2 separate regions of the Homo sapiens genome follow, and region 2 is linked to region 1. Evidence: fine-mapped QTL for protein levels in blood plasma. Region 1 holds a variant in brackets. A gene starts in the other region. All regions are shown on their forward strands.

Region 1 (5,000 bases):
TCCCCGGAACGTGGGGGCGCCTTAGCGACTCCTTCCCTGTTGTGCCCCCGTTCCCGGCGTTCAGCCCGGCCCCGCAAAGGTGGGACGGCTCCCGGCTTCAGTTACGGAAGCGGCCCGTGTCCAGCGACGAGGGTTCGAAAATGCCCCGCGCGTTCCTGGTGAAGAAGCCGTGCGTCTCCACGTGCAAGAGGAACTGGAGCGAGCTCCCCGACGAGGAGCGCGGCGAGATCTACGTGCCAGGTGAGGCTCCAACCGCCCTCCGGCCTGGGGCACCCGCGGCGGCGTCGAGGCTGCGGGCGGGCGGGCGGGCGCAGGTCCGCGGAGCCAGGCGGCAGGCGCGGTGTGGGCGCCGGGGCTGAATGCGGCCGCGGCCTGGGCTGGGTGGGCCCGCGGCTCTCGACCCGGGACTCGGGGGGCGGGGGCGGGGCCGGCGGAAGAGCGCTGGTCGGGGCGGGGGCTGCATGGTGGAAGGGGAGCCGCTCCCAGGGCCAGGGGGCGCGGAACCGCCTACCCCCACCCCCTGAACCGCGGCACAGAGGAGGCAGCGGGGTGTGTCACCGCTCAGGCGACCCTCGGCTCCGACGTCGTAAATCCAGAAAACCGGGACTCGCATGAGGCGGGAGAAGGCACTGGAGCGATGCCACTTTGGGGGGCGGGGAGCGGGCTGGAGTTTCGGCCGAGATTTGTGTTAAAAGCTCAGAGCTTCAGCCGCTCGCACAGGTCCTTCCTCCTCCCCCACAACACTGGTGGCCGGGTCGGAGTGAGGGTCGGGCCGGTGGGGGGCGTGGGCCCCCAAATTTTCGTTGGGCTCCGGCTGCT[A/G]GTCCCGCGCAGTGAGCCGAGACGGTGGGACAGGCGCCCGCTGCGCCCCGCTTGCCCTTAAAGCAGAGGTGGGATCGGGTCTCACCTCTGCTAGAAACGCACTTCCTTCACCTTGCGGAGGGCACAATTGCATGGAAAGCAGCTGCAGGGAGCCCACCCCACAGCGGAGGGCCAGGCCCGGGGAAGCTGGTGTACCCAGTTATTTTTGGCAGACGCCTAGACAGCGTCGACTGTGAGAGTTGCTTCTTCCTCCAGCGGCATCTTCCCCTGAACGCCCCAAGAACACTCCTACCCCTTCTGTCCTCCCCCACCCCCAACAAAGTCTTTGGTCTGGAGAAAGCCTGCTTCCTTCCGAACGCCCCCTCCCCAGGCCTTGGGGGCGGGGCGTGGACGCTCTGAACGCCCAGCCCAGCCCCTCCGAGGGGGGAGGGGAGGAGTAATTAACCAACTGACTTTGACCCTTGATCTGCAGACTCCCTGGCACCGCCCCAGGCCTTGTAGGAAAGTGGGGAAATGAGGGCAGCAGTGAGGGGCCCCGTGAGGGCTCTTGCTCAGTTTCCCTCCTGAATAAGCTGTTGGAGACAGTGTCCTGGTGAGGTCTTTGTGGCCTGACCTTCCAGGACCCAGTGGCCTGTGGCGCTGGCAGGATGTTTCACAGCTTAACCTGATCTCAAGGGGACCCCTCTTCCACCGTTCCTTAAAACAAGGGAATGTGCCAGAAGACCCTGGTAACCCCAGTGGGGAAACTGAGGCAAAAAGGGAAGTGAGTGGCCTCCCCACCTGAGGCAGATTAGGGTGTGGGCTCAGAATTCTGTGTATAGCTTCTTGCTTGGCCACACTCCCTGGTGAGCTGGCTGGTTCTCTACCTGGGGGTTGGTGGGGGCACGCAGAGGGCCAGAGCCCCCTCCCCGCTCCGCCCTCCGCCCTCCACCCTCACCTGTGTTTGACTTGCTGCTTAGCTGCTCCTTGGGATCTGATAAACTGAACTTGGACCGTGGTAAAGGTGAGCTGAGCCCTGAGCCAGGCTCAGTGTGCTGTTATTTTTAGTTTTATTTCACATCCCAATCAGTAACAGATCATGTGTTGATTTTTACAAAGGACAAAGAAATTCCGTTGGTTGAAATCATTGACTTCTTTTTGTCCTAGCTATTTTCTCTGCCACACTTCCAGTGGCCACAGTGGAAGTGGCAGGGGAGACGTATGCCCCAGGGGCTTCCTGTCAGGTGCAGGAGAGGGCCTCTGGGTGGTCCAGGCCACCCGCTGGCACCATCCAGGTGAGGGAGACCTGCCGGCTTCTCTGTAGGCTCCTCCAGGATGTGTGGCGGGAGTCCAATCTCAAGGATGAAGGGAGAATTTGTCCTCATCCCCATGGCAAGGAGAGAATCCTGTGGGTCAAGTAAAGGGTAGAAGATAGAGAACTTAATTTTACCTCTGAAAGTCATGTGGCCCACTGGAGAGTTTTCCCACAGTTTTTGGCAATGAGAAAGGGACTGTCCTCAGTCCACGCTCGGGTGCCTCAGATGGCTGGAGAGTGGGGGTGCGTTTTGTGCTGGCCTGTCCCCTGGCTGGGCCATTCCATCACCAGCCAACCATGACCCCAGAGCCAGCTGGGCACGTTTCCGTTCACCTCACAGATTCCTGGTAAGTTGTGACCAGCTAAGCGTTGACCCCATTTCCAGTGGAGGGCCCAGGAATGTGGGAGTGTTTGAGTTCTGACCTTCCTGCCAGGTTCCTCTGAGACCCTCAAAGCCTCCCAGAAGGTTTTGGGAGAAGGTTTTACAGGCCAGAGACACTGGTCCCCAGCCCGACAGCACTGATTCCAGGGCCCCAGTTTGACAATCCCATCAGCCTCTCTCCCCAAGGCAGAATTCTAGAGCTTCTTACTCCCGGGGCAGAATCTTTCCCCTGGGAAGAGGTGAAGATGGTTGCAAGCACCCTGGAGATTTGAAAGGATTACTGGCTAGGAAGCCACCTTGAACCGCTCCCCCACCCACCCCCCCAACCACCCTCCCCTCGCCTTCCTTTGTTATGTCAATATTGACTTGGAGTGACAGGGAGTAATGCTGGTTCCTTGAGGATAAACCTAGGCACCTGTACCCAGGGGGTAAATTCTACCTCCTGGACCCACCAGGGAAGGGCTCCAGGAACAGGGTTGAAGCTGGTTCCCCCGAGCCCCACCCCATGCTGAGTGAAATCTCCAGGCCAGGAAAGGACCTGAGGACAGACTGAGGCTGGAAGCTGGAGTCAAGGAGCATCCCAGGGCCTCTCCCAGGCCTCCCACCACTGCTTCCCAGCCTCCCCTCTGTCACTGGGCTGGCCACAGTCTGCTCTGCCACTCGCCTGGTGGACACTCGAGCTCAGGGAGGCCAGCAGGCTGGGCGGTGGGACACTGGAGCTTCCTTCAAGGAATGTGGTCCAGCCTGGCTCTACCACTAGGTAGTGTGGGCACTTGGGCAGATCTCTTTCCAGCTGGTCAGGAAAGCTGAGAGTGAGCTTTGGGGCCCAAGGATGTGTCGGGAGTGAGGATAGTGAGAGCTCCGGCCTCTGATGGGATGGTTACCCTGTAGTCATTCCTGGGCCGTGTTTGGCAGCGAAGGAGATGTTTGCTGTGCTTGCCAGGGAGCGGGGCTGGGAGAGTGGACAGCCACACAGTGGACAGAGACAGAAGAGCAGCATGGGCCTGGGCAGCCAGCTAGATGAGACTCCTACCTGTCCCCTGGGATCCTGTCACCCAGGCTGCTAGGCTGTCTGTGCTGAGCTTGGGTGTCCCGAGGCGGAAACCTGGCAGATGATTTGTCTCAGAAAGAACAGGTGAGGGCGAGTCCTTTGGCTGCAGGGAGGATGGCGAGGGAAGCTGGCCATGGGTGAAGTCGGGGCTCCTTTGTATCATCGGCCATTTCAACAAGTCCTGGATGGAGTCCCACAGAGGCACTGGGCCTGTGCCTGGCTGGGTGGGGGCTGCAACAGGAAGCACTGCTCCCACTGTTCTGGGCGGGCACCCTGGCGCGAGGGCCGAGGCACAGTTTTAACTTCTTTGTGGATACCCAGTGAAAAGCGGTTGGGAAAGAGGGAAAATACACTGTCTGAGGCGACCTGTGGCAGTTCACAGCGTGGAAACAGAAGGCCAAGAGACTGGCCCATGCGTTACCGGGCCGGCCTGCCTCTGGCTGGTGCTGGGTCCTTTTGGATGATTGCTAGCTGACCTATGGGGACCAGAGGAGATGGGCACGGGGGGCACCAGCCCTTCCTGATAAGGGTGCAAGGCTGCTGAGAACCAGCTGCACTGTGCTGACATGCTGGGCCCCCGTCTCACCTTCAGAACTGGGCTGACCCCCATGTTCTGGGGCAGCACCCATGTGGTCAGTGGGGCCCAGGAGGGGGTCATCCTTGCATCTGCTTCACTTACTCTCCCCAGAGAGCCAGGGACAGGCCTCATGCCCAGCCCTGTCCTGAGGCCTTGGATGGGGGGACCCGGCACTTTCCCCAACATCTGGGCCAGCAGCTTTCCATCCAAGAGATGGAGGACTTACAGAGGCCAAGGCAGGAGACAGGCCTCGATGGGCAGCTGCCCTGGACACAGTCCCTCGGTGTCCGTGCCTCTGCTCTGAGCCTGGCCCTCAACATTGTCCAGGTAGAGGCAAGTAGGGCCAGCAGGAGGGGACCCATAAGCCCCCAGGCAGTAGGAAGAGGGCCAAGCTAGTTTGGCCTTGCCATACTCCACAGCTGTGGGCGGGTGATGAGTAGTCATAGCGCCACCGCCTTGCCGGAAACATCTAATTAGGGACAGAGAGCACCACAAGCAGGGCCCAACCAGTTCTGCTTCCTGCCTCCTGCCACTCAGCGACACTCAGTGCCAGGTGGCACGCCAGTGTGCACTCCCTGTGCGTGTGGCCGCAGAAGGGACACGCTCATGGGGGTGGCAGGGAGACAGGTTTGGCAGGGTGGGTGGGATGAGGCAAACATCCCCACCCTGGCAGCGGGTGGCCGCCCATCCAGCCTCCTCTGCCCCTCGCTCAGGGTGGAGGTGGACCAGAGAGCCAAAGCAGGCAGGCCCACTCCCTGGCCCCGGTCTCCCAGCACCAGCTCAGCCAGGTTTGTGTGGAACAGCAGAGGTGGGCAAAGGACACAGGTCTCCTCCCAAATGCATGGATCTCAGGACCCTAACCATGAGCCTCCCCTCT
Region 2 (5,512 bases), not on the chromosome of region 1:
CAAGTTCACTATGCTTCTCTCTCTCTCTCTTTTTCTTTTTTTGAGACTGTCTCTCTCTGTCACACAGGCTGGAGTGCAGTGGTGTGATCTCTGCTCACTGCAAACTCTGTTTCCCAGGTTCAAGTGATTCTCCTTCCTCAGTCTCTGGAGTAGCTGTGACTACAGGCACCTGCCACCATTCCCAGCTAATTTTTGTATTTTTAGTAGAGATGGGGGTTTTATCCTGTTGGCCAGGCTGGTCTTGAACTCCTAACCTCAAGTGATCCACCTGCTTTGTCCTCCCAAAATGTTGGGATTACAGATGTGAGCCACTGCGGCCCACTATACTTCTGAAACAACGGTACAAATGCTTTTCTTTGAGACAATTGCCCTTTGGTGTGCAGCAGAAGTGTTTGATTTCTACGTCTTATTTTCCCATGTGAGTATAAAGAGCTGCATACTCTCAATTTGTGCTTCCAGTTAAGATGGAACTGGATTTGTCATCCCACCTAAAATATATTAAAAATGACATTCACAATGGATTGGATAAAGAAAACGTCACACACACACACACACACACACACACACACACGCACACACACACACACACCCTGGAATACTACCAGCAATTAAAAATAACAAAATTTTGTCTTTTGTAACAACATGGATGGAACTGGAGGCCATTATCTTTAGTGAAACAGCTCAACTAGCACATGTTCTCACTTATAAGTGGAAGCTAAATAATGTGTACACAATGACATGAAGAGCTGAATAATAGACATTGGAGACTTGGAAGGGTGGGAGGGTAGGAGGGATGAGAAATTACCTGATGGGTAAATGTATACTATGTTTTCAGGTGATGCTTACACTAAAAGCCCAGACTTGTCCACTATGCAGTATATCCATGTACCAAAACTGCTCCTGTACTCTCTAAGTGTATAAAAATTTTTAAAATGATGCTTAAATATTGGAAAAGAGGTATCACAGGAAAGTGGTGAGAAAAGGGAAAATGAAATGAGATGAGCCTGATGTTTTCTCCAGCTTACTGCTTTGAGAGTTTCCAGGATGCAGTGCAGGTAGGAGGAGTCCACACAGAGCTGGTGGTCTCCATGAGATGAAAACGCAGACGTGAGGAGCTCTCTCTCCTCCTGTACTCTGTCCTGCTAGATTTAAAATCTAGCTTCATGGAGAGACAGCTTCAGAAGGCAGTAAAACAACAATTTTATTACTTCATCAATGACATTCTTAAGTGAAACTGGCTCTTTTTCTTTTCTTTTATCGTCCTCTTCTTTTTTTTTTTCTTTATGCGTGGCAGTGAAAAATACTAAGATGGCTGGGTATGGTGGCTTACGTCTGCAATCCCAGCACTTTGGGAGGCCGAGGCAGGTAGATCACCTGAGGTCAGGAGTTCGAGACCAGTCTGACCAACATGGTGAAACCCTGTCTCTACTAAAAATACAAAAATTAGCAGGGTATGGTGGTGCATGCCTGTAATCCCATCTCCTCAGGAGGCTGAGATAGGAGAATCGCTTGAACCTGGGAGGCAGAGGTTGTAGTGAGCCGAGATGGCACCATGGCACTCTAGCCTGGGAAATAAGAGTGAAACTCCTTCCAAAAAGAAAGAAAGAAAGAAAAACACAATGACTACAAGTATAGATTTTCCTCCTCAATAGTACAGTTTTGTGTCCTGTATTGACAGTTGCTAAGGTGCCAGCATTTTTACCCATCATTGCTTTTGCAACATCAGTGCAAAGTCTATACAGTAGAAAAAATGAATCTTGTTTTGGTATTATTATAAAAGTTGATTTGACTTTGGAGACAGCCAAGAGGGTCTTGGGGAATCCCCAGTATCCATGGACCACACTTTTGAAAACTATTGTTTTAATAGAACCTTCTGGTCATTACTACTTTGATCTAATGGCGCCACTTTAAAGGTGGGACTGGGTGTAGGAACATCCTGCCATGGCAGCTTCATGGAGAAGATCTGTTTTGGCAATTGGGTCCTTCATTTCCTTCACATCACAGTATGGAATCTATACTATAATGGAGGTAAAAATTTCTCCACTTGAGAACAGTGTTATCACTGTATATACAACACATTTTTTCCATGATGAAAAACAGGGTCTGAAACTTTAATTAAAATGGAAAAGTCATTAGTTATCTTCCATGGGAAGAGTTTGAAGAAAGGAAAAGTTGAAGTAGGGCAAAAATAGCAGATATAAGGTATTTCTAAACGTTTCCCAAATGAAGGAAGAGAGAAAAGAATGAGCGAAGGAAAGGAAAAGGGTATTTAGTGTGTAAGACACTAGAAAAGATATGCATAAGGAATGAAGTGATACATACATAGTGGTGTTGGATTTGTAGATTCTTGGAAAGTTGGCAGAAAAGCTTACATGTAAAAAAAAAACCAATGTATTGAAATCAGTCTCACTAGCTATGTGGAATGTTTTAGATTTGTACCAGATACAATACGTTTGTGGTGGATACAGGAGATGCGCTGCCCAGATCTGCCCCCAGGGAAGGACCCTGCTCCAGCTGTTGGAGGCCGGCTGGCCCACAGCCTCTAGCAGTCAAGCTCTTTTGGCTGGAAAGCCGCTTGCAGGAAATCACTCCATGGAGGTGCAGAGATAAGGCCCCAGACATTTTGGCCCAGTATGGGACAACTTTGACCGTCTTTTTCAGCTTCAGGACTCCCATGGAGTTGGGTGAGGTTGTTGGGCCCGCTTTGCTGCTAACTTCTCCCTCTGTTCTCTCCTGTTCCCCTTCTTCCTCCCACAGGGGTTTGTCCCAAGGGCACTCCCTAATACACATCCTGCATGTTAAACTCTTGTCTCAGAGTCTGCTTCCTGTAGATACCAAACTGTAAGAACATCTTATTGACTTAAATATAACCAAAATTGGAGAAACTTAGGAAACAAAATCATCATTACGTTATGTGCTGACATTTTAGCTTATTTCTATATTTCTTGTTTTGAATTGCTCATACTTAGCATGATAGTACCTCTCACATTTTGTTTCATTTAGGTTTGCTATTTCCACGTTCTCTTTCTTATAGGAACCATATTGTGAAAAGACATAAAGGTAATAGGGTAAAAAAAAGCAAATAGGCTCTTTATTACCCAGCCACTCAGGAAATGCACTATTTCAAGGTTGACCCAGGCAGCAAGAGAGGAGCTGTATTGGGGAATGTGACAGTGGTTTAGTTCTGAAACTGGAGCCAGTAGAAAGTTCTGAAGGGGGTCCGATGATCAGAACTGTCTGTGGGTTTAATAAAGGTGTATTTAATTTTATTTAAGCCTGGAGATTTAAATTGTCACTCAAAACTCTCAGACATGAATAGGGTTAGCAAATCTGTACACCAGGAAAGGAGTTATTTACATCCTGTCTTCTCCTACAGCTCCAGAGGAGGGCAGAACAGTGTATTTCCAGGCAAGCCCTCTCTTTAAAAACTCATAGCCAAGGCTGGGAAGACAGAGTGAGTGGGTGGGCCTTCTGGCAGCTTCCTTACCTTCAAATCTTTGCTCTCTGTGAAATGGTTCTGCTTCAGTATCCTTGTTCTGATTTTTCTGGGAACTAGATGTTACTGGGAGATGACTCAGAGCAGGCCAAGCCCTGATCCTCACTGTGGAAGCAAAAGAGGCTGGTGAAAGTCACTGTCCTGACAACTTGGACCAGAAACCTACAGACAAAACTGAAATGTTTTCCTGCCCTAGGATTATCTGGATAACAATGACCTTTGATGTTACAAAGTAAATAGAATTGTGTTTGGCTTTTCCTTTTGGGGCCATGCCTTGGAGAAGATGACTCCTTCAGAGCCGCTGTGAATATTGTAGATCTCATTATTTCAGATAATTACTTTGACCATCCTTTTCAATTTGAGAGTATGATGTGAGGCAAGGCAACTATTTGTGAGAAAAAAGAGAAAAGGCAAAGATCCACTGTCATACTTTTGCTTGTGGGTTCCAGTCCAGGCTTTCTATGGGGGGTGGGGGGGTGTCTCAGTCTCCCCGTCTGTAAAATGGGATTAGTGGATTAAATCCGGGAAGGTTGGACAAGCACCTAGGACGGTGCCTGGTGCCGTGTTCAGCAGACGTCGATTCCCTGTCCACCCCTTCTTTAGGAGCTGTGGGAAACACTTCATAACTCCCCAGGGTCTGGTGAACCCTTCCTCCCTTTTCTGTTCCCTGTTTTGGCATTGGAGATCATAAAAAGGCTCTTCCATGTCTCTTGCTTCCTTCCTTTCATCTTCTCCAAGAGAAGGAAGTGGCCGCCTTTGTTAGCTTGGGTTCAGAAGCTTGTGTCTGTCACCCAGGGCCGCCCAGCCCCGGGGTTTGCGAAGGTCCGGGGTAGGAGGGCTGCAGCCTGCGCGACGCGGCGGGAGGCTACCCGGGGGCGATGGGAAGGCGGGCGCAGTCGACCCAAGGGTGGAGAAGAGGGAAGGCGAAGGACGCGCGTTCCCGGGCTCGTGACCGCCAGCGGCCCGGGGAACCCGCTCCCAGACAGACTCGGAGAGATGGCAGGCGGAAGACACCGGCGCGTCGTGGGCACCCTCCACCTGCTGCTGCTGGTGGCCGCCCTGCCCTGGGCATCCAGGGGGGTCAGTCCGAGTGCCTCAGCCTGGCCAGAGGAGAAGGTGAGGGGCTGTTTCTGCGTAGTTGTACTTGAGCGGCTCTGGTCCGATGCGAGGACCCCTGGCCGGGTCAGCCCTACCTAGGCAGAGCGGGAGGCGGGGCAGGGCCACGGTCCCCAGCCCAGGCACCGGCGCCCCACCCGGCGCCCGGAGGAGTCGGGGCTCTGCATACTCGCCGGGGTGCCTCGGCCAGTCCGGGGCTGTTCTGGAGACGCCAGGGGGGCTGGGTGATGTCACTGGCCTCTCCTGGGCTGCGGTCTGATGGGGGTGCTGATAGGCACAGGAAATGTGTCTCGCCGGCGGCTGCTGAGCCGGGAGGCGAGGGCGCATCGCGGCGCCACCCCCCACTCGGGACCCTGGAGGGCAACGGGGCCGGCGCTCCGGGGCCGCTAGGGTGCGGGGTGCGCCTGGGGGTGTGCCCACAGCCCCCCCGCTGCTTCATCCAAGGATGCTGCTGGGGCGCTGAAGTGTCCCTACAGTCTCAGGACGGATGTGTGTTGTTTGTTTTAGATTTTTAAAAGGAGCAACTCGGCAGGAAGGACCTTTACTGGAGACCTGCTTACTTCAAAAGCCTTTTTCCTCCACTTAAAAGAGGGTACCTGCTATTTTCAGAGAAAATGGATCTAGTTGTAGGTAGAAATCGCATATAAGGAACTTAGGATAAAAGTGATTTGCAAGTTCCCTCTGTAAGAAGTGTATGGGTTCGGCCGGGCGGGGTGGCTCACGCCTGTAATCCCAGCACTTTGGGAGGCCGAGGCGGGTGGATCACGAGGTCAGGAGATCGAGACCATCAGGGCTAACATGGTGAAACCCTGTCTCTACTAAAAAATACAAAAAATCAGCCGGGCGTGGTGGCACGCACCTGTAATCCCAGCTACTCGGGAGGCTGAGGCAGGAGAATGG

Alleles and levels. Alleles are on the strand shown, and positions count from the first base shown. The strength of an association depends on the size of the effect and on how common the allele is.
With allele A in place of G in region 1, the plasma level of the protein whose gene starts at base 4,391 in region 2 is higher (moderate association).

The links. PIP is the posterior inclusion probability: the model's chance that the variant is causal. Protein levels are from antibody-based Olink assays in UK Biobank. Linkage for the fine-mapping came from a reference panel and not from the study's own genotypes, which makes the PIPs less certain.
Region 2: it holds the start of QPCT, and the variant in region 1 is fine-mapped to the plasma level of the QPCT protein (UK Biobank, PIP above 0.99).

The regions. Positions count from the first base shown.
Region 1 is chr11:65,787,234-65,792,233 of GRCh38, forward strand. OVOL1 (ovo like transcriptional repressor 1) reads left to right here. Exons shown (of 4, transcript NM_004561.4): 1 at 1-240. The coding sequence starts at 141. It overlaps LOC124902693, which reads right to left. Exons shown (of 7, transcript XM_047427980.1): 6 at 3,529-3,851; 7 at 1,768-2,204. It overlaps OVOL1-AS1 (OVOL1 antisense RNA 1), which reads right to left and starts at 3,635. Exons shown (of 2, transcript NR_108085.1): 1 at 3,529-3,635; 2 at 1,768-2,204. RefSeq lists enhancers at 4,285-4,444, 4,625-4,784. The variant A/G (reference allele first, on the strand shown) is at 820.
Region 2 is chr2:37,340,240-37,345,751 of GRCh38, forward strand. It overlaps QPCT (glutaminyl-peptide cyclotransferase), which reads left to right and starts at 4,391. Exons shown (of 7, transcript NM_012413.4): 1 at 4,391-4,612. The coding sequence starts at 4,493. LOC124907754 (a long non-coding RNA gene) reads right to left here and starts at 4,816. Exons shown (of 2, transcript XR_007086284.1): 1 at 3,488-4,816; 2 at 1-488. RefSeq lists a silencer at 4,762-4,821.